Linked DNA regions of Homo sapiens. The protein of the gene in region 2 purifies or fractionates together with the protein of the main gene of each other region. This does not show direct contact. Each region holds a gene or a part of one and is shown on either strand. Other genes may lie near its edges.

Region 1 (7,321 bases), on a different chromosome or scaffold from region 2:
CAGATATAAGAGATGAACATATAATTCTTTTTCTTTTTTTGAGACGGAGTCTTGCTCTTGTCACCCAGACTGGAGTGCAGTGGCGTGATCTCAGCTCACTGCAACCTCCGCCTCCCGGGTTCAAGCGATTCTCCTGCCTCAGCCTCCTGAGTAGCTGGGATTACGGGTGCCGGACGCCATGCCCAACTAATTTTTGTATTTTTAGTAGAGACGGAGTTTTGTCATGTTGGCCCAGGCTGGTCTCGAACTCCTGACCTCAGGTGATCCGCCTGTCTTGGCCTCCCAAAGTGCTGGGATTACAGGCGTGAACCACCGCGCCTGGCCAAGCATAGAATTGTTTAAGTTTCAAAGTGCTTAAAAAATAAATGCAAACTCATTCATCTTAAACTTGAAAACCCCTAAACCATATGCTACCGTAATCAACTCTACTTCTGATTTACAAGATTTTGCCTTGAAAGAAAATGTAATACTGAGAACTTGATTTTGTTATTGTTGTCATTAAGGACTGAGAAATGGCATTAGTGATATTTTGGAATCATTAACTTTAACACACTTCCTCGTTCTGACCTAGATTGGAGAGGGAGGTGACTTCAATTAAATGGATCCTCTTTTTATGTATATATGGTGTATTAGTCAGGGTTCTCTAGAGGGACAGAACTAATAGGATGGAGATATAGATATATATAATGTATATACATATATATGTTTATTAAGTACTAACTTACATAATCACAAGGTCCCACAATAGACTGTCCGCAAGCTGAGGAGCAAGGAGAGCCAGTCTGAGTCCCAAAACTGAAGAACTTGGAGTCTGATGTTCGAGGGCAGGAAGCACCCAGCACAGGAGAAAGATGTAGGCTGGGAGGTATAGTAATGAAGAGCATTAGCAGTCTATTTTACTTTACCTTAATATTCAACCTGCAGATATTCAATATGCAAAAAGATCACATTTCTAACCATCATTAGGTAATGAGCTATGTTTCTCCTTGTTTTGATGATCCGCAAAAGCCTTAAGAAAACAGAATTAGCTGCCGGGCACGGTGGCTCATGCCTGTAATCCCAGCACTTTCAGAGACCGAGGTGGGCGGATCACCTGGGGTCGGGAGTTCAAGACCAGCCTGACTAACATGGAGAAACCCCATCTGTACTAAAAATACAAAATTAGCTGGGCATGGTGGCACATGCCTGTAATCCCAGCTACTCAGGAGACAAGCAGGAGAATTGCTTGAACCCGGGAGACGTGAGAAAGAGGCAGGAGAATCGCTTGAACCCAGGAGATCACGCCATTGCACTCCAGCCTGGGCAACAAGAGTGAAACTCCATCTCAAAAAAAAAAAAAAGAAAAAAGAGAAAAGAGAATTGGCCAGGTGTGGTGGCTTAGGCCGGTATTCCCACCGCTTTGGGAGGCTGAGGTGGCTGGATCACTTGAGGTCAGGAGTTCCAGAGTCCCAGACCAGCCTGGCCAACATGATGAAACCCCATCTCTACTAAAAATACAAAAATTAGCTGAGCGTGGTGGCACGCACCTGTAATCCCAGCTACTCGGGAGGCTGAGGCAGAAGAATCACTTGAATCTGGGAGGTGGAGGTTGCAGTGAGCCGAGATCGTGCCACTGCACTCCAGCCTGGGTGATAGAGTGAGACTCTGTCTCAAAAATAAATACATAAAAATAAAAATAAAAATGCAAAAATTAGCTGGGCACGGTGGTGTGCACTTGTAATCTCAGCTACTGTGGAGGCTGAAGCAGGAGGATTGCTTGAACCAGGAGGCAGAGGCTGCAGTGAACCCAGATCAGGCCACTGCACTCCAGCCTGGGTGACAGAGCAAGACTGCCTCAAAAAAAAAAAAGAAAACATAATAGAATCACTGCCAGTGAGGGGCTAAAAACATTACATGAATTTTCTGAAGACAGAAGATACTATTGTTAATTTAAAAGTTGTGATGTTCTATGAACAATTCAAATATACCGCATGTCCAGATTCATGTGCAGATTTGATCTTCAGTGTTACTAAGCTGCTTTCAGAATCTCTGCTCCAGTTATTTCCTTGAATTCGTGTGTTCTCACAGATTGCAACTGAGCTTTTTGTTAATTTGCTTTATTTACTGGCACATCTAATATCTGAATCAGCTTTATCAGGTATTTTACTACCCAGATTTCTTCCCACCTGCACAATTAATCCCTTTCGTAAGGGATTAATTCATCAACATTCAACAAGCCCTTTTATTTCTTCTAAATTTTTTTTTTCCAGCCACAGCAAAACAAAACAAACAAAACCCAAGTCCTTTTCTGAATTTAGTGCAGGGCACAGTGAGAAGTTCAAAATAATGTACAATTTAAGATACTCAGGGAGATAAATATACACACAGCACTGGAAAGTTACAAAATAACATAAGGCAGGCAAGAAGTGATAATATTCAGGAGAATTTAGAGTAGTTAGGTAACATGAGTGGTTAGCATTGATGTAGGCTATAGGGTCTCCTAATTCTAACATTTTAACCTTATTAAATTAGACAATAGATTACATTAGACTACAGTTAGCTTGAAACAGAATTGCAGAGTTGGACTCCAGGATATTGAGAAACTACTCTAGGTACACACTTGTTTGTCTCTACTTAAACCTTTGCTTTTTAATAAAACACCAAAGCAAACTAAAAACAACAACAAAAAACCAGAGGAACGTCTCCTGTTTTGAGAACTGGAAAAGCAAAGGGGACTTTTTCTTTTTTTTGAGACATCGTATTGCAAGACACCAATAGAGGCACTTTTTTTTTTTTTCAGGCGGAGTCTCCCTCTGTTGCCCAGGCTGCAGTGCAGTGGTGTGACCTCAGCTCACTGTGAGCTCTGCCTCCTGGGTTCAAGCGATTCTCTTGTCTCAGCCTCCCCAGTAGCTGGGACTACAGATGCACGCCACCACGCCCGGCTAATTTGTGTATTTTTAGTAGAGACGGGGTTTCACCATATTGGTCAGGCTGGTCTCGAACTCCTGACCTCAGGTGATCCATCCGCCTCAGCCTCCCAAAGTGCTGGGATTACAGGTGTGAGCCACTGCGCCTGGCCCAATAGAGGCACGTTTGTCAAGCTATTGTGAGTAACTTTCAGAATGTTTTTGTTCTCAAGATACGGGATCATGGTGGGGGAGGCATGCTGTGTATTGGAGTGCAGACATGGTGTGTGTTGGGTTGCACACTGTGTATTGGGGTGCACACTGTATTGGGGTGTAGATGTGTGGGGGCGCACACTCTATTGAGGTGCACATTGCATTGGAATGCAGACAGTGTTTGCTGGGATGCACATGTGCTGTGTTGGGGTGCACACTGTACTGGGGTGCAGACATGGTGTGTGTTAGAGTGCACAGTGTATTAGGGGTGCACACTGTATTGGGGTGTACACTGTACTGGGGTGCAGACATGGTGTGTGCTGGGGTGCACACTGTATTGGAGTGCACACTGTATTGGGATGCTGATGTGGTGTGTGCTAGGGTGCATACTGTGTATTGGGGTGCAGACTGTATGCTGGGTTGCACACTGTGTATCGGGGTGCACTGTGTTGGGATGCTGATGGTGTGCTGCAGTGCACACTATTGGGGTGCAGATGTGTGTGCTGGGGTGCACACTGTATTGGGGTGCACACTGTATTGGGATGCTGATGTGTGTGCTGGGGTGCATACTGTGTATTGGGGTGCACACTTCTTGGGGTGCAGACTGTGTGTTGGGTTGCACATTGTGTATCGGGGTGCACTGTGTTGGGATGCTAACGGTGTGCTGCAGTGCACACTGTATTGGGGCGCAGATGTGTGTTTGGGGTGCACACTGTATTGGGGTGCACACTGTATTGGGGTGCTGACGTGTGTTCTGGGGTGGACACTGTGTATTAGCGTGCTGACGTGGGCTGTGCTGGGATGCACACGTGCTTCGCTAACAGGCCAGGGCCCGGCAACAGAAGCTTGCACTGTAAACGCTCCTCCCGCGCGGCGGACACAGCTCCAGGCTGGTACCGCGCGCACACGGACGCCTCGCAGGACCTGGGCTAATAAGGAGAGGAGATCGGCACGGTACCGCCTCTTCCCACGGCCTCCCGGCGCGGCACCGCCCTCCTCCCTCCACCCCGGGCCTTCCCCGCCCCAACCTCTTCGGGCCCTGGTTCTCCACCCTTGCCGCGGGCGACTCGAGCCAGGCCAAAGGGAGGCGCTACCTGAGGACTGCTTCCGGGAGTGGGCGTGGCCCCAAGGGCGTGGGCGGGGCGGGGCGGGGCCGTGCTGCTCTTGAGCGACCGGCAGCGTACCCGGCGTGGCTCCCGTCTCCGCCCAGTCGTAGGCGCTGGCCGCTGACATGTTGAGGACTACGCGCGGCCCAGGCCTGGGCCCCCCGCTGCTCCAGGCCGCGCTGGGCCTTGGGCGGGCTGGGTGGCACTGGCCTGCGGGCCGGGCGGCGAGCGGGGGGCGCGGGCGGGCCTGGCTGCAGCCCACGGGCCGGGAGACGGGTGTGCAGGTGTACAACAGCCTCACCGGGAGGAAGGAACCCCTAATCGTGGCGCACGCCGAAGCCGCCTCCTGGTGGGCCGCGCGGGACTGGGGCACGGGCGGGGGCCGATCGTGGCGGAGACTTCCCACGGCTGAACGGGATCTGGGCTCGGGGAGGGCGTTTAGGAAGCTGCATGGAGGGCGCCGTTCTAGAAGCTGGGGGTGCGCGGTGCTTTTGCAGGTTTGGGTGTGAATTGAGCAAGTATGAAAACCCCGGCTATTCATCCCCCAGAAGTGATTACTTTAAAAATTATATGATCATTATAACTCAGAATCGAATGTCCTTTCTTGCAAATATGTTCCACACGATGGATTTTAACTTTGTTTCCAGGTATAGCTGTGGACCAACTGTATATGATCATGCGCACCTTGGCCATGCTTGGTGAGTTTCCTGGATTTGAATTTTCATACTTCAAAGGACCATTTATTTTTGAAAGCCTTTTGCTGATTTCTTTTATCTCTTAAGTGGCAACTTAGGGATGCAGAATAATTCCTACATTCCAGGCATTGTGGGAAATGTTACAACCTCATTTGGTTCTTATAGGGATTCTGAGCACTTACACCCGTTTTACAGGTGAGGAAACTCAGGGAGACAATGGAGCACTGAAAAATGACCCGTTTTGGAACTAGATGTTTTTTGCTGGGTTTAGTGACATCAAGAGGCCTTTGCGGGGTCCCGGGGTCCTGCTGATCAGTCATTCCTGGGCCCCACCACTTCTTAGCTTCACAGCACTGAGCAGGTCACTTTATTGCTTTGAGTCCTGGTTTCTTCATCTTTGAGATGGGAATGATAACTTGGATCTTATAACAATTTTAGTAAATAATGCCCATAAAATGCTGCTTAACACTGTACCTCACATGTGAGATGTCACGGGGCTCAATAGTGATTGAGTAACTTTCCTAAGATGACACATTGAAGAGGTATTGGAACTGGGGTGAGGCTTGGTTTCTCTGACTGCGAAGTGGTTGCTCTCTTGACCTCTTTAACTGTAAGATGTACTGCCTCCTACATTTGCCAAAATTACCACTTTTCCTAATATTTTGTACATTTCCAAAATATAATGTACAAAAATGACATATTATAGATTTTTTAAAACTTAGTATTGTTCAGTCCTAGACTAAAAGTAAAAAGTTACATTTACTCTGTATACTTTTTTTTTTTCTTGAGACGGAGTCGCTCTGTCGCCCAGGCTGGAGTGCAGTGGTGCAATCTCGGCTCACTGCAACCTCTGCCTCCCAGGTCCAGTTGCCGCCTCCTGGCAGCAATTCTCCTGCCTCAGCCTCCGGAGTAGCTGGGATTACAGGCATGTACCACCACGCCCGGCTAATTTTTGTATTTTTAGTAGAGACGGAGTTTCACCATGTCAGCCAGGCTGGTCTCGAACTCCTGACCTCAAATGATCCACCTGCCTTGGCCTCCCAAAGTGTTGGGATTACAGGCATGAACCACCATGCCCGGCATACTCTGTATACTTTAAATATACATTTTTCCCCTTTACTTTGGGCTAACATACTTTTAATTATCAAAAGCATATTTCGACATCTTTCTTGAATTATAAAATATGTTGGGGAAATATTAAAAACAAAACCCCCACCCTGGAAAACCTTTCCACAAAGGTAGAAGAGAAAGAAAACAGTTCTGTTACTGAATAAGCCTTAAACCAGAAGGGGATGAGCTAAAATAACTGCAAAGACAGAAAGAAATCTCATCCTTCTATGGAGCTTTGGGGATACAGCCTGTCTCAGTCTATGAGTCTGCTGTAACAAAATATCCTAAAATGGATGACTTATAAACAACAGAAATTTCTTTCTTTCTGGGGCTAGGAAGTCCAAGATGAAGGCACCAGCAAATTTGGTGTCTGTTGAGGGTCTGCCTGCTGTGTCCTCACATGGTAGAAGGTAGAGGGAATTCTCTGAGGTCTCTTCTATGAGGGCATTAACCCCAGTCATGAGCTCTCTGCCTCCATGACTTTGTCACTCCCAGAGGCTCCACCTCCTAAAACCGTCACCTTGGGAGTTAGGGTTTCAACCATGAATTTGGAGGGAAGACAAACATTCAGACCATAGCATAACCCATTGCTTCAGGTGAGTTACAGTGTGGAGTCAGATGACAAGGTAGGCCCATCTCCTCCCAGGACACTGGGAAACGGGGCGTTATTTTCCTTGATTACATTTCAGAGGTGGGTCCCAGGTTTTGAAATTTTCTTGAGTTGTAAAACTGCCAAGAGGTTTATTTAGCCATTTAAAAGATTGACATGCATTTGAAGAGGACTGAGGAAGAAATCCTAAAAGTTGTTGGGGAGAGAATCTCTTCTCATTTCCAACTAGGAGAGTCAAGTCTTGCAGTTTAAATTTGTATAATATTTACCTTTATGACTACAGAAAAGAATACACATCTTAAGTGCGCAGCTGAATGCATGTTATAAGCTGTGTCCACACAGGGCCTTCCCAGGGGCTGGTGGGAGCTTGGGACTCTCCTGTTGACCACCTTCCTGTCAGCCTGGCCAACCCCTCCAGGCCTTTGCTGGGCTGGCCTGCCCCACCTCCCTCTCCCCATCTCAGCTCTCCTAGCATTGTACTCCTTCAGTGGTTATTTATGCAACCATCTGATGTCGTTAGCATGATGTAATTATTTCAGCTCCAGCAGGACAGGGATGCACACAGTGCCTGCTGCAGAAAGGTAGAATTTGAGCAATGGGTAGCACTCAGTTCACTGGAAAGAGACACCCTGAAAAATAGCCTCCACCATTTCCAGAAGAGGTCAGAGGGATGGAAACCCTGTTTGGGGAAAACAAATAGAT
Region 2 (7,005 bases):
CGAAAAGGGGTCCTATTTATTGAGTCAGAGTTTCACTCTCGTCACCTAGGCTGGAGTGCAGTGGCATGACCTCAGCTCACTGCAACCTCTGCCTCCTGGGTTCCTCAGCTTCCTGAGTAGCTGGGATTACAGGCGCCTGCCACCACACCTGGCTAATTTTTGTATTTTTAGTAAAGATGGGATTTCACCATGTTGGTCAGGCTGGTCTCCATCTCCTGACCTCATGATCTGCCCGCCTCAGCCTCCCAAAGTGCTGGGATTACAGGTGTGAGCCACCACACCCGGCTGGGGGTCTTATTTTCACCACACTCGGCTGGGGGTCTTATTTTACCCTCATGGCAGGGTGATGGCTGCAAGAGCTCCGGAGGTGCATAATGCCGACCTGGACCTGCTCGCTTTGAAGATGCAACACAAGCCTTACGGACAACCACACAAAAGCCTCCTGTTGAGGCCAAATCAGCAGCCATTCTGGTTGGCAGACATACTGCCAAAAAAACCACCCCCAAAACAAAAACCTCCTGTGAAACCACCATAGAGAATTTATTTTTTTCTCAGGTGAAGTCAGTAACTAATTCTTCCTATTCCCGTTGGACACAAGGAGTCTGTGAGGGGGTGTGAAGGAAGGAGGCTGCGGCTGCGTCCTGGACTCCGTCCTGCGGTAGGGAGTCCAGCAGGGATGGCTCAGCCTCCGCACCTGGTGTGCAGCCGGATCTCCATCCTGAGGAAGGCCTTGAGGTTCTCATCAGCCACGTGCTCCTCCAGGGCAGCCAGGGCCCGCTCCCCACCGTCCTGGAAGTGCTGCAGCAGCCTGTCCGCGTACTCCACCCACACGCAGTTGGGGCAGCCACTCATGCAGCAGTTTGTGGGCGGCTGGAGCTCAGGTGGCAGCGATGCCTTGGGCGGCCTGGTGCCGTCCGCACCTGCTTGGGAGCCCACCTCTACGTGGTCTGTCCCGAATTTTCTGCGCCCATCAGGGGCTTGCGCTCCGGGATGGTGCCTTTGAAGAAAGCTGCCACCTCCAGGAAGCCTCTGGCAGCAGTCCGGGCTGGAGAACCGGCGAGCCCCCTGAGGATGCAGACAAACATGTGACTCTCCAGGAAGCTGGTGAGGCCCGGTCTACCCCCAGCAGTGAGGACATTTCAGCTCTCCTGTCATTGGGCAACTGGCTCCATGTCCTCAGCTTTTTCACTTCCTGTGACTTTAGACATGTTATTTCACCTCTCTAGACTCAGTTTCCCCACTGTGCAATGGAAGTCATGGGTATGACACGGTGTGATTCACAAGAAGTGCCAGGATCAGGGCCTGGCGCCGGGTGTGCACTCAAGCACATGGTGGGGGGTGGGGGAGGCACTCGACACCTCCAGCTAAGATGGCTGCTCTGTGGACACCAGTATGCGAGAGGTGTAACCCTGTAAGCTCCTGGCCAGCCCAGCACCTCTACCAGTATAACCAAGCCCCACCACCTCTGAGGGACCAACCGGAAGAATCGCACCACCCTTTATCCAAGTTTCCCTGTCACAAAGCCCAGGCCTCTCAGGCCCCTCTCATCCCAGCGTGAATGTCCTATAGGCAGTCTTCCGTCGCTGCCCTGCTCTATCTACCCAGGATCACGGACTGACACGCTACCAACTTCACTTATTTAACTAGTCCTGCGAGGGGCATCATCCGCTCCATGTCCACGGCCAGTCCCCAGAGCCCAGGAGGGCTCGCACACAGGCGCTCGGCAGATACTGAGAAACAGGAAAGTGGCCGTTCACCGGGCTGCTTCCTCTCCCAAGGCTAAGCGGCCCCTCCACAGATTCCGGGGCGGGGACTCGGTAAGAGCCGATGGAGGAGAGGAGCGAGGGGTCCTTCGGCGGCGGCCAGCGCGCGATCCTCCCGGCTCCGTCCCCACATGCGGGTGGAGGGGCCGGGGCTCCTCCCGGTACGTGCGGGCCCCCGGACAGCGGCCTCTCGGACGTGCCCTTCGGCGCTGCCAAGACCCGTCCTGGTACTTGCCGAGCCACGGACCGCGGCGGCTACCGCCCGGCCTCCCTCGACCACCCTCCGCAGCAGCATCGCCCGCGGACGGGATCCGGCAACCCCTGACCGTGAGCGGCGGGCGCTCCGGCCAATCCCGGACCTTCAGGAAGTCGCGCCGCTCCAGCCAGCGTGAGGCTGAGCGCAGGAAGCGGAAGTGCCGATCGGTGGGGCGGAACCATGCAGGAAGGCGGAAGTGGCTTCGCTAGGGAGCCTCCCGGCGTGGAGATGGCGGGAGCTGGTCGCGGAGCAGCGGTGTCCAGGGTGCAGGCGGGTCCTGGGAGTCCCCGGCGAGCGCGGGGGCGGCAGCAAGTGCAGCCGCTGGGGAAGCAGCGCCCAGCCCCGTGGCCCGGGCTTCGCAGGTGACTGCGCTGCCCCGCGAGGCCGCCACACTTCCCCAGAGAAGGGGACGCCTTGAAGGCTCCGCCCGGGACCCCCTAGGGAGCGTTCGCTCGGACCCCTTCCCCAGGTCGGGCTCAGTGCCCTCCTCTGTCTGTGCCCGCGGCCCACGCTCCGCCAGGATCGGTTGAATGAATGGAGGCGCGAGCGAGTCCTTGGTTTTGCCTTTCCCGCGTCCCAGTGTCCCGTCTTTGTGGTTCTGGACGAGGTCAGGGCGGAAAGGCCTCCTGGGCTTTCGGAGTGCCTTTCGGCCTCGCGTCCCGTGAGGAAGGGGTTCAGGGACAGCCACTGAGTGAGACCGAGAGGAAAGATCCCTGCTCCCTGGACTGCTGGACCGGCTCGCACCACAGAAGCCAGATGTGGCCCCTGTATAGATAGATTCTTTTTTTTTTTTTTTTTTTGAGACGGAGTCTCACTCTGTCGCCCAGGCTGGAGTGTGGAGTGCAGTGGCGCGATCTCGGCTCACTGCAAGCTCCGCCTCCCGGGTTCACGCCATTCTCCTGCCTCAGCCTCCCGAGTAGCTGGGACTACAGGCGCCCGCCACCACGCCCGGCAAATTTTTTGTATTTTTAGTAGAGACGGGGTTTCACTGTGTTAGTCAGGATGGTCTCGATCTCCTGACCTCGTGATCCGCCCATCTCGGCCTCCCAAAGTGCAGGGATTACAGGCGTGAGCCACCAAGCCCGGCCAGCCCGTGTAGATTCTATTGCCAGACCCAACTATTGTTTCTCTTACTGATTCTGCTTGTGCTTTACTTGGGACGGGTCTCACCCCCGTGTTCTTTCTCCCAGCAAAGAGAAGAAGAAAGTGAACTGCAAGCCCAAGAACCAGGACGAACAGGAGATTCCTTTCCGGCTCCGGGAGATTATGAGGAGCCGCCAAGAGATGAAAAACCCGATCAGTAACAAGAAGAGGAAGAAAGCAGGTGTGTGCAGGCCCATACTGGGCGGCAGTGAAGCTTTGTGTGTCTCAACCCGCCCAATCGCCCAAATACTTCAGAACGTTTCAGGCAGAGGAAATATGCCAAGACCCGGTGCTCAGAAGGTGGGGGAGCGTGGCCAAAGCTAAAGCAGTGGCTGGCAGCTGGTGGCGCTGTGGTTCCAGACGAGGCTTGGAAGGAGGCTGTGGGGTGGGCGGGGAGGACCCGTTATGGGGCCTCAGGATCCATGCTAAGGAGCGGCGTTTTTTTCTCCCCAAAAGTAGCGAAGATTCATCAGAGTTTTTAGCAGGGCACGGCCAATTCATGTTTACTCTAAGCAAAAAAAGGGTCACCGAGCGATGATGGAGTGAGGGAGAGTGGACCTGGCAACTGGCGGGGCTACTGCCAGGGAGAAGCCATGATTCTTGGGACAAGAGTGCTGAAGCAATGGTAGAGAGAAGTGGGTGGAGTCAGGAGCTGAAGGAGGAAATTCCATCAGGCCCCTCTGAGAAGTCTTGCCTTCCTCCCCCAAGTCTGGGTAGGGTGTCCACATGTCCACCGCTGCAACCCAGAGGTAACACTCTGGGCATGTTGGGAAACGGAGTCCACTGTGTGTATATTTTGCTTATAGACACATTTCTCTTCCCAAACGTGGCACTGGTTTTACAGCAAAGCTGTTTTATAATTTGTGTATAAACTGTAGGCTTCTTGTTGGGGGTTATATGGCTGCCAAAGGGATAGTGAGATAGAGGTGAGGAAGGTGCAGGGAGGAGGCGCACTGGCCTGGGTAGCACATGGCACGTTCTGAACCGTGCTGCATTGAATTGGCACCTTTGTTTGTTTGTTTATTTATTTATTTATTGAGATGGAGTCTTGCTTCCTCGCCCAGGCTGGAGTGCAGTGGCGTGATCTGGGCTCACTGCAACCTCCACCTCCTGGGTTTAAGCAGTTCTCCTGCCTCAGCCGCCTGAGTAGCTGGGATTACAGGTAACGCACCACCATACCCAGCTAATTTTTTGTGTGTGGTTTTTTTTTTTTTTTTTGAGACAGTCTCCCTCTAGCCCAGGCTAGAGTGCAGTGGCACAATCTCAGCTCACTGCTACCTCTGCCTCCCCTGTCCCAGTTCCAGTGCAAGCAATTCTCCTGCCTCAGCCTCCCGAGTAGCTGAGATTACAGGCACACGCCACCAAGCCCAGCTAATTTTTGTATTGTTAGTAGAGACGAGGTTTCACCATGTTGGCCAGGCTGGTTTTGAACTCCTGACCTCAAGTGATTTCCCCACCTCAGCCTCCCAAAGTGCTGGGATTACAGGTGTGAGCCACTGTGCCTGGCCTTTTTTTTTTTGGAGACAGAATATCGGCTCACTGCAACCTCCACCTTCCAGGTTCAAGCAAGTCTTGTGCCTCAGCCCCCCCAGTAGCTGGGATTACAGGCCTGTGCCACCATGCCCGGCTCGTTTTTGTATTTTTAGTAAAGGCTGGGTTTTGCCATGTTGGCCAGTCTGGTTTCGAACTCTGGCCTCAGGTGATCCGCCCACCTCAGCCTCCCAAAGTGCTGGGATTACAGGTGTGAACCACCATGCCTGGCAATATGCATGTCTTCACATATTTATGAACACAACCACCTGCCTGGCACTGTCCGCCTCCTGTGTTCTACACTCGCCCGGGGTCCTGCGCTTGCGTTCTCAGTGGATGTCATAGGTCTGCCCACGTTTCTTTTTTGAGATGGAGTCTCGCTCAGTCGCCCAGGCTGGAGTGCAGTGGCGCAATCTCGGCTCACTGCAAGCTCCGCCTCCCGGGTTCACGCCATTCTCCTGCCTCAGCCTCCCGAGTAGTTGGGACTACAGGCGCCCACCACCATGCCCAGTTAATTTTTTCTGTGTTTTTAGTAGAGACAGGGTTTCACCGTGTTAGCCAGGATGGTCTGAATCTCCTGACCTTGTGATCTGCCCATCTTGGCCTCCCAAAGTGCTGGGATTACAGGCATGAGCCACCGCGCCCGGCAGGTCTGCCCACGTTTCTCTGTGTAGCTCCACTGGGCTTCTTTCGGCAGCTGTGCAATGGAGTCTGTGGGTGATCAGAGGAGAATTCATTCAACCAGCCACCTAGGGGTGGACATTAGGTTGTTTCTGCTTTCCTTTTTCAGCTGTGCTGCAGTGGACATCTGTGACAGGTGCCATTGGGCTGGGGGGTCACGTCCCCGGGGATGCCGGGCCGGGCATTCTACATCCTCTTCAGCTGCTGTCGTTGGGGTGCTTCCAGCCAGCCTGGTCTTCCCTTCCTGTGGCTTTGGGAGGGGAAATGAGCATGGGTCACCTGCCTGCCACTGTCTGCCTCCTGCCTCCTCTGAGGCCTCCCTTTGTCCTCAGCCCAGGTGACCTTCAGAAAGACATTGGAGAAGGAAGCAAAGGGAGAGGAGCCCGACATCGCAGTCCCCAAGTTCAAACAGAGGAAGGGGGAGTCTGACGGGGCCTATATCCACCGCATGCAGCAAGAGGCCCAGCATGTGCTGTTCCTCAGCAAGAACCAGGCCATCCGGCAGCCAGAGGTGCAGGCAGCTCCCAAGGAGAAGTCTGAGCAGAAAAAAGCAAAAAAAGCGTGAGTGGAGGCGGGAGGGGGAGGGGTCTGCCCTGGGAGCCGGAGGGAAGACATTGGGTTCCCATGACGGCCCTCTGCAGGTACCCTGTTTCATAGCCATGGGGCAGCCTGGATTCAGGGAGACCAAGCCAGAGCCCTGGGAGTTGGCGAGTCGGAGCATCCAGCTGGGAGCCAGTGAGGGTGTGGCCTCCAGGAGGCTGCGGAACCTGGGAACTCTGCGGAGACCTCGCTTGGTCCTTGCTTTCACAGGAAAAGCACCAGAAAGCCCTAGCCCTGTGGGAATCAGCCCTGAGGGGGTCGGTCTGAGGGTGACGTGCCCAGGGGTTCTGTTTCCATTAGAACAGAATGTCTCTCGTCCAAGAGACTACACCTTCCTAATTCTCTAAAAGCTTTGGCCGAGTACAGTGGCTCACGCCTGTAATCCCAGCACTTTGGGAGGCTGAGGCAGGTGGATCACGAGGTCAGGAGATCGAGACCATCCTAGCCAACACGGTGAAACCTTGTCTCTAATAAAATACAAAAAAAAAAATTAGCCGGGCGTGGTGGTGCATGCCTGTAATTCCAGATACTTGGGAGCCTGAGGCAGTGGAATCGCTTGAATCCGGGAGGCAGAGGTTGCAGTGAGCTGAGATCGTGCCGCTGCACTCCAGCCTGGTGACAGAGCGAGACTCCATCTCAAAAAAAAGAAAAAAAAAAAAAAGCTTTGAAGGTTTGAGAGGTTGCTTTCAGCTCTGTAGATTCCCTGTTTCTGGATTGTTGTATTACTTATAGTTACCTTAGCCAGTGAAAGTTCATCACAGAGAACGTGGCCCAGATACAGCCTGGCGCCACGGTGATCTCCAGAGCTGTCGCTGAAGGTGAAGCTTCCAGATTCACATTGAGGGAGACGTGATATACAATGCTTGTTAGGCCCTTTAGACACAGCAGCACCGGATGGGCTGGATGAGTCTCTGTTGGGTGGTCTTTGGCAGCCTTCCCAGCCTTCGTGCACAAGGTGCCAGTAGCCCTTGCCCACGTGTCTGCACACATTGTCAGATGTTCCCTGGCAGGTAGCTGTCCCCAGCTGAGAAC
Region 3 (7,538 bases), on a different chromosome or scaffold from region 2:
AATGGGATACCACCACTGACTCCCTAGTCCTTGCTATCCAGAATTCACTCCACTGCCTGATACCTTCTACCCTCACAGTGTGATCTCTGCTTATCAAGACCTCTTGGCCTATCAAAACCTCTTGGCCTATCAAGAACTCTTGGGCTATCAAGACCTCTTGGCCTATCAAGACCTCTCGGCCTATCAAGACCCCTCCTTGGATCCTGTAATCACAGGTCTGGCTCATGTGAACTACTACTGGTTTTCAGTTACATCTTCAACTATCAGCAACATCAACACTCAAAATTGCTTGCTGCTGGAGGTGACAAAAAATTTTAATTAGTAAACACGTAATGCAAACTAGAGCCAGCTGTCTCTCACCTAGTTCCAAACAATCATTTCTCGCTGCTACTCATTTTGGCCCTTCAAGACCTTATTATCTAATCAAACGGGACTACTGACCTCTTCTGAACATGCCCAATCACATCTTTGCTCAAAAAGTTCTTTCCATGTAGCACACTCTGGTCCTCAAACTTAAATTTTTCCACACCCCAAAGTAGTGCGTCCCCTATGAATTTTTCTGATTACCACATCTTGAGTGACTTCTTCCTCCAGATTTCCATGGCTTTCTGCTAAACATCTTTTACGGCACTTACTATTATTGCATTTTGTATTATGGTTCTGACTTTCTTCTACTTTAGATCTATATTGTCCAATATGGTAGCCAGTAGTCACATGTGGTAACGGAGCACTTGAAATGCGTTTTGTCTAACTTGACATTAATATGAAAATAGTATTAGTATGAAATGAGTAGAAAATGGGATGTAAAATATACATTGACTTTTATATTGATTACATATTGAAATAATTTTGATATATTGGGTTACATAAAATATATTATTTAAAATAATTTTACCTGTTTCATCTTACTTTTTAATGTGGTTACTAGAAAATCCAAAATTATGTATTTCTACTAGACAATGTTGCTTTAGACAGGGGCCACTGCACAAAGTTTAGCAGGCTGTTATCCGCACAGGGGCATTTATAAAAGGACAAGAAGGGCTAAAATCAAGGCCATCCTACACTCACCAAGCCATGCACTCTGGAGGGGGCTGTGTCTGCTCAGGGGCAAAAAATCTGTTGCTTCAAAGGCGCCATCTCTTCACCAAAGTGTGACCCCTGGGAGCTCTGTGTGTCCAGAGAGCATGCCTTTTTCTAATTTGCATAAAGGCATCATATAAGCTAGCGACAGCCCTGAGATGGGTGACGACGCCTTACTCATATTCTGCCTGCCACATACTAGTGGCAAAGCAACTGAACAAATTAATGAATGAGTACTCAACTCTACTTACCCTCTTATTTTATTTTTGAGACGGAGTCCTACTTACCCTATTTATTTTATTTTACTTTTGAGACAGAGTCTCGCTCTGTCAGCCAGTCTGGAGTGCAGTGGTGCAATCTCAGCTTATTGCAACCTCCACCTCCCAGGTTCAAGCAATTCTCCTGCCTCAGCCTCCCGAATAGCTGGGACTACAGGTGTGCGCCACCATGCCTGGCTATTTTTTTTTATTTTTAGTAGAGATGGGGTTTCACCATGTTGGCCAGGCTGGTCTTGAACTCCTGACCTCAAGTGATCTGCCCGCCTTGGCCTGCCAAAGTGCTGGGATTACAGGCGTGAGCCACCATGTCCGGCCTACTTACCCTCTTTAGACACATCTCTTCTTATCATGTGATGACATATAACACTTTATCTGGTTAGAGAATATAGTTCTCATTAGGGCTCACCACTAATCAAAATCACTGTTTAACTTCAAGATTCAAATTTTCATGTCTGTCTTCTAGCACCACATCAAAAATTAATAATCACTGCATATTTCTTTTATAGCTTTGTATTTCCAGATAAGCATTTGACCATTCCATAATACTATGAAAATACTTATTAATGTGTTTACATTTTTGAAAGATCAGTATAAAAATAAATAATGTAACACCCAAGAATCTCTAATTTTTTCCAACCTACCTGATTGCATTTCTCTTCTTGTCTTAGAACACTCGATTCTGGGAGATTTCACAATTTCAGAGGTGCCTGAGTCTAATGTCCTTTGTTTTTCTTCGAGAGAAGAGTCTGTAGTATGTTGAACAATGTTTTTTTTCTCTTTCTTATTTTTTTGTGTAAATTCTTTGCTATCCTTCTTCGGACTTATGTTTGAATCTATCTTAAATTTACATGAGGTTTTCATTTTTTTAATTCCTATAGAATTATCTAAATCAGTTTTATTTTCAGAACCCTTGTGATTAGCCTTCTTGGTTTCTTTCTTTTTCTCAACTAGATTTTTTGAATCGATTTCTTTTTTAGTCTGGGTTTTTTTCTTCTTTATTTTCTTTTGACTCAATGCTTTGCTATCTTCACCAGAGAGATTGGAATCAGAATCTGAAAGGTCGTAAAAACGCTTCAAATCCTCTGTAGTGCTATGGCTAATGGGGCGCCCTCTTTTATCCACGGCATAGTTCAACTTGAACTTCTTGTCATGAAACATGGCTCGAAATCTCTTGTCAATTTTGACTTTTCGATCCTTTTCTGGCATTTCCCAAAATCTCGGGTCCTTTGCAACCCGTCTAAACCGCTGGTCACTCATTATTTCTTGTTTGGATGACATTTTTAATTCTTAATCTCGACCAAATGCTTGAAGAAAACAAATACTGAAAAATAAAACAAATGTTTTAATGGTAATAATGGTTAGTACAATAATTAAATGTTTTAAAACACATTCACAATATATTCTAAGTTAATATATTCTAAGTTAAGTGTACATAAAATAGAGGTAACAAGTCTAATTTCATCTCTCCAACGTATTCTGGGTCACATGCAAAAAAGCAGAAACATACCAAAATATCCTCTTTCCATGACAGATCATTTAGAGAAATAAACTTAAGGTAGACAAAGCAGAATCCCAGGGCTTTATGGAGGGGAACAAATGTTTATTCATCCATTGCTCTCACTTAGAATTTCTATTTGTATACCAGTATGTGTTACTAATTGAAGGCAAATGTAGTTAAGATTCCCTAGGCCGAGTGCGGTGGCTCACCAGCACTTTCGGAGGCCAAGGCGGGCGGATCACTTGAGCCCAGGAGTTCAGGACCAGCCTGGGTAACATGGTGAATCCCCACAAGAAATACAAAAATGAGCCCGGCATGGTGGCGCGCGCCTGTAGTCCCAGCTACTTTGGAGGCTAAGGCAAGAGGATCACTTCCACCCGGGAGGTCTTGGCTAGAGTGAGCCTAACGGCACTACAGCACACCAGCTGGGGCAACAGAGTGAGACCCTGTCTACCAAAAAAAAGTAAGAAAGAAAGATTCCCTAGCCTCCGTTGGCCTCATTTGTTTCTTCACATTCTGGTCTCATTCTGCTTACTCCTTATCTCCGGCTACTGCCAACAAACAGCCTTTAGTTCTGTAAGACTAGCATTCTAACTAAACAGACCAAAATCAACTCAGGTTTAGCTAAGAAAGTTTCCTTTTTAAATTCGATCATCCTTCAAAAGTAATAAAAAGTTTAAAAATAAAAAGTAAATTTGAGTCTCCAGGTAAAGTCTCACACCAGTTAATAAATATCACTTCTTTCTATAATATCTGATTCTACCAGTGATGAAGGCCCAAGTGAGCTCATTCCCCCAAAACATACTAGAACATATACATATGTGTGTATAAATTAATATTGTTCCCTTGTGAAAAGTCTCCAATGGTTTAGCATCTCTGGATGGGAATTTTGCAAAGAGCCAAAAGTCGTTGATTATTAAGCAACCCCCCCCCAAAATGATTAAAAGGGCAATATTTCTTATTTAAAAATCAAGTCCTTTTAATTACACTAACTAGGAAAAAAAAGGAAGCTATCGCTGGTGCATTTACACATTTTTCGATGTATTACAGCACTTAACTCTCTGAGCAATCTTACGAGGTAGGTACCACCTCAACCAGGAGAAGTACTGCATGTATTGTAAATGTTTAGAAGGAAAGCACTCATTATATGTCAGATAATCCGAGAGAGGGGAAGGCGACCGGACCTCACTCCCGACACGCGCCCGCATCCCCGTAGCCCACCCTCCCCTTCTGCCCGCTCTCTAATTCGGAGAACACAGGGCTGGCCCCTGAACTAGGGTCTCCTTTCCACCTCCTGTACCGCAGGGGGGCAGCTAACAGACTGATTCGAGAAGCGACCCTGAAAAGGATCGATGAAGACTGAAGAATGAGACCGAAAAAGGCTCAGGAGGAAGGGGCAAAACCCCTCGCAGATCCGAAAGAGATCCTGTTAGAGACTAGTTTTTTCCCCGCGCCACACACACACACGCCCTCAAGCCCTTCATCTCGAGCTCTTCAACTCCAGTCCATCCCCACTCACCGTCCGCAGTCCTACCAAGCCTCACGTGGGGCTCACACCCACAATCCTCCGCGTGACGCTCCGCCGTAATGGCAAGCGAACTAGGCCAAACTACTTGCACGTTCCCTCGAGAAGATCTTTGGAGTAGACACAAAAGCCGCGCTGGCGCATGCGCACAAAAAGCGCCGGCAATTGGGGTCGCAGCTGGAGATGCTGCGGCCGGCAGGGCTCTGGCGCTTATGTCGGCGACCTTGGGCGGCGAGGGTCCCAGCGGAGAATCTTGGCCGTAGGGAAGTCACCTCTGGTGTCTCTCCCCGCGGTAGCACCTCGCCCAGAACCCTGAATATTTTCGACCGGGATTTGAAAAGGAAACAGAAGAACTGGGCAGCCCGGCAGCCCGAGCCGACCAAATTTGACTACCTGAAGGAGGAGGTGAGCCCGCGGGGCGGCGGGGCGGCGGGGCGGGCGACGCGGAGGCTTGTTTTCCTCTCCGCTAGTTCCGGCTAGGCCCCGAGCTCACCCCACCTAGCCGTCTGACCTTGACCAGCAGCCCTGCCTCTTTCGGCCTCTACTGTAATCACGCAAGGCCTGGCCTCGGATATTTGTAACATGCTTTCATTCATTCATGCATTCATTTCGGCAACGTCCTTGAGGCTGAAAGGACCTTATAGAGGCCTCCAGTGAAGCTCCGGAGAGGGAGAGAGTGGGAGAGAAGGTTAGGAGGACCCAAATCATCAGGGCCTTGCAGGATAGGGACTTGGGGTTTTCTTCTGTATCTGCACTGTCCAGCCAGTATGGTAACTGCCGGCCACACATGTGGCTGTTGAACACTTGAAAGGTGACTAGTCCAATTGAGATGTGTTGTAAAATACACACGAGTATAGTGACTTAGTATGAAAAAAGGATGTAAAATAGCTCATTAAGAGCTTTTATATTGATTACATGTTGCAGTGATTATTTTTGATATATTGGGTCACATGAAATATATTAAATATAAATTTAAATTTTTCAATTAAAATTTCTCTCGTTTTTACTTTTTTTCTTATGTGGCTACTAGAAAATTTGAAATTACATATGTGGCTCTCATGATTTTTGGTCAGCACTGCTCTAGGGGAATGTGAAGCTCTTGTTTTAATCAGTGGAGTGATCTGACTTATGTTTTAGGAAGATCAAATTAAGATTTCTGATTTGTCTTGGCTCGTTTGAGAAACCTTTCTCCCTGCCCAGGTGAGCCAGAGACTGAGGGTTTCTACTTTCAGGACACGCATTCTCAAGTTCAGGCCTCAGTAAATTTTTATTCAGGAGTGGAACAAAGTTGGAGTCAAGTATAATGCAACAAACAGTTATTGAACTCATAGCTTGAGCAGAGCTCTGTGCAAGTACAGGTCTGATCAGATGATTGACAGGGTGTCTTTCTCAGGAAGTCTTAGGCTGGTAATGTCTATTATAGGAAGTTTACTACCAATAAATTTTTTGTGTCTCACTTGTAAGGCATGGTGCACGTACTACACTGCTGATGTCGTGTACTTAGAAGATGTGCGCTCATAGCCCTTTCCCTCCAAAGAAAGCACCTGGACTACAACTTGATTGAGGCCTCGCCAATTTGTGAGACTAGAACAAATAAGATAAAGTATATGAGAGTTCTTTTTATAATAAACATAGGGTGTTCATATTAGGAATGACGTACAAGGTGGACTCCTGGGAAAAACATCTACGCTCCCTTCTCCCTTGCCCTTCTCTCAAAAAGCAGGTACATCTGTGTTTGGAACTTTTAAGTCCTAAGAGCAACTCTGGGGTGTTTATGAGGGAATGAGTGGAATGTGGGGAATACTAGACTCCCACGTCTTTATTGCTACCAGATGAAGCTAGGCCAGCAAAAGGTGGTGCTTACCTTATGACTCTTAAATTGGGATGGGATTGGAGCAGGGGAGGTGCACTTTCCTCAGATTTGGCTTTTTCTAACTTGCGAATGTCACTCAGAAAAGTTGTTCATTTATGAGTTCCACAAAATTTGTTAGTCATCAAATAATAGAGTTTTTCTTAAGTGACCACTTACATACTCATCTACAATAAACCCCAACTAACTAATTTTTCACTTTGTGTACCTCATGCTAATATCCGTGGACAGTAATGTGCCTGTTGTGTTCCTTTTGCTTTTCATCCTTGTGATCTTATGTCACATGGAATGTAAAGGCCACATATATATATGTGTGTGTGTGTGTGTGTATATGTATATTTTTAAGAATATTTAGTCTGGATTTCATGAAATTGACTTCTGAAATAATTTGCCTCAATTTTGTTTCCTGGTGGTTTGAGAAGAAAGTTCCTGTGGTGAAATTGAAAAGGGGATAAAGGGAAGTACTTATTTTAAAACATAAGTAACTTGTGGATTGTTGAATACTGGAAAAAGAGTGTTACTTCCCCGTTAACCTACGCCTCGTGTAATCCTTCAGGTTGGAAGTCGGATCGCAGACCGTGTATATGACATACCCAGGTAAGTGGTGGTGATCATAATACAATACCATCAACTTTTGAGTGGAAATTCAGGAGATTAAATGCTGAGAACTTGCTATCTGAAATGGCAGAACCTGGAAGAATTTACTCAGACTGGTGATTTAAATCACTCTGTAAGTCTCCTTTTTCTTGTCTGGAGAGCAAATGTTTTCTTCATTGTTGCCTGAAAAAAGAAAAGAATGTGTGGAAGCACAACTCGTATCTATCTCCAAGCCTGAATCCACTTGATTTGGCCAAAAGCAAGTAATAGAAAGATTGCTCCAAAAATGGAGATACTTAACAACATGCGAATTTTTAACATCCGAAGCCTCTGTACCTAACTGTGCCATATTGCCTGTGTTCATCATCAAGATATAGGGCATTAGGTAAATAAGGTTATCTACCACCAGGGATTCTCCAGCTATGTACTATAATTTTGACAAAGCTTTTTAAAAACAAATTGCAATGGGGCTCTTTTTGTTCCAGTTTTTCAGGAAGAATGTTCTTAGTAGATAAAATTTTAAGTTTTCTTATTATAGGTTTTTTTTTTTAAACCTATGGCCTACAATTAGATGTCTGTACCAATGTAGCATAACATAGTGTATTTAGAGGAGACAGCATGGCATGGAGGATAATAGTTCCAGCTCAGGATTCAGACTGACCGAATTCAAGTGTTGACTGCCCCTTGTTA

The links. Proteins that work in one complex are often made in the same cells at the same time.
Region 1: the proteins of OXLD1 (region 2) and CARS2 purify together in Homo sapiens (affinity purification with mass spectrometry; 3 studies listed by BioGRID and IntAct, with this or other methods). This does not show direct contact.
Region 3: the proteins of OXLD1 (region 2) and NDUFAF5 purify together in Homo sapiens (affinity purification with mass spectrometry; 3 studies listed by BioGRID and IntAct, with this or other methods). This does not show direct contact.

What each region holds. Positions count from the first base shown.
Region 1 is NC_000013.11:110,703,102-110,710,422, reverse strand, and holds the start of CARS2 (probable cysteine--tRNA ligase, mitochondrial), read left to right. Parts: upstream 1-4,306; 5' UTR 4,307-4,329; coding exon 4,330-4,553; intron 4,554-4,851; coding exon 4,852-4,902; intron 4,903-7,321. UniProt on the Homo sapiens protein: Mitochondrial cysteine-specific aminoacyl-tRNA synthetase that catalyzes the ATP-dependent ligation of cysteine to tRNA(Cys). In addition to its role as an aminoacyl-tRNA synthetase, has also cysteine persulfide synthase activity.
Region 2 is NC_000017.11:81,664,520-81,671,524, forward strand, and holds OXLD1 (oxidoreductase-like domain-containing protein 1), read right to left. Parts: upstream 2,087-7,005; 5' UTR 2,059-2,086; coding exon 1,999-2,058; coding exon of another isoform or gene 1,780-1,998; exon of another isoform or gene 1,675-1,779; coding exon of another isoform or gene 1,645-1,674; exon of another isoform or gene 1,066-1,644; coding exon 682-1,065; 3' UTR 517-681; downstream 1-516. Other genes in the region: CCDC137 (coiled-coil domain-containing protein 137), read left to right, coding at 2,248-2,381, 3,210-3,343, 5,706-5,934.
Region 3 is NC_000020.11:13,780,505-13,788,042, forward strand, and holds the start of NDUFAF5 (arginine-hydroxylase NDUFAF5, mitochondrial), read left to right. Parts: upstream 1-4,523; 5' UTR 4,524-4,564; coding exon 4,565-4,786; intron 4,787-5,845; exon of another isoform or gene 5,846-6,807; coding exon 6,808-6,848; intron 6,849-7,538. Other genes in the region: ESF1 homolog, read right to left, coding at 2,000-2,636. UniProt on the Homo sapiens protein: Arginine hydroxylase that mediates hydroxylation of 'Arg-111' of NDUFS7 and is involved in the assembly of mitochondrial NADH:ubiquinone oxidoreductase complex (complex I, MT-ND1) at early stages. May also have methyltransferase activity.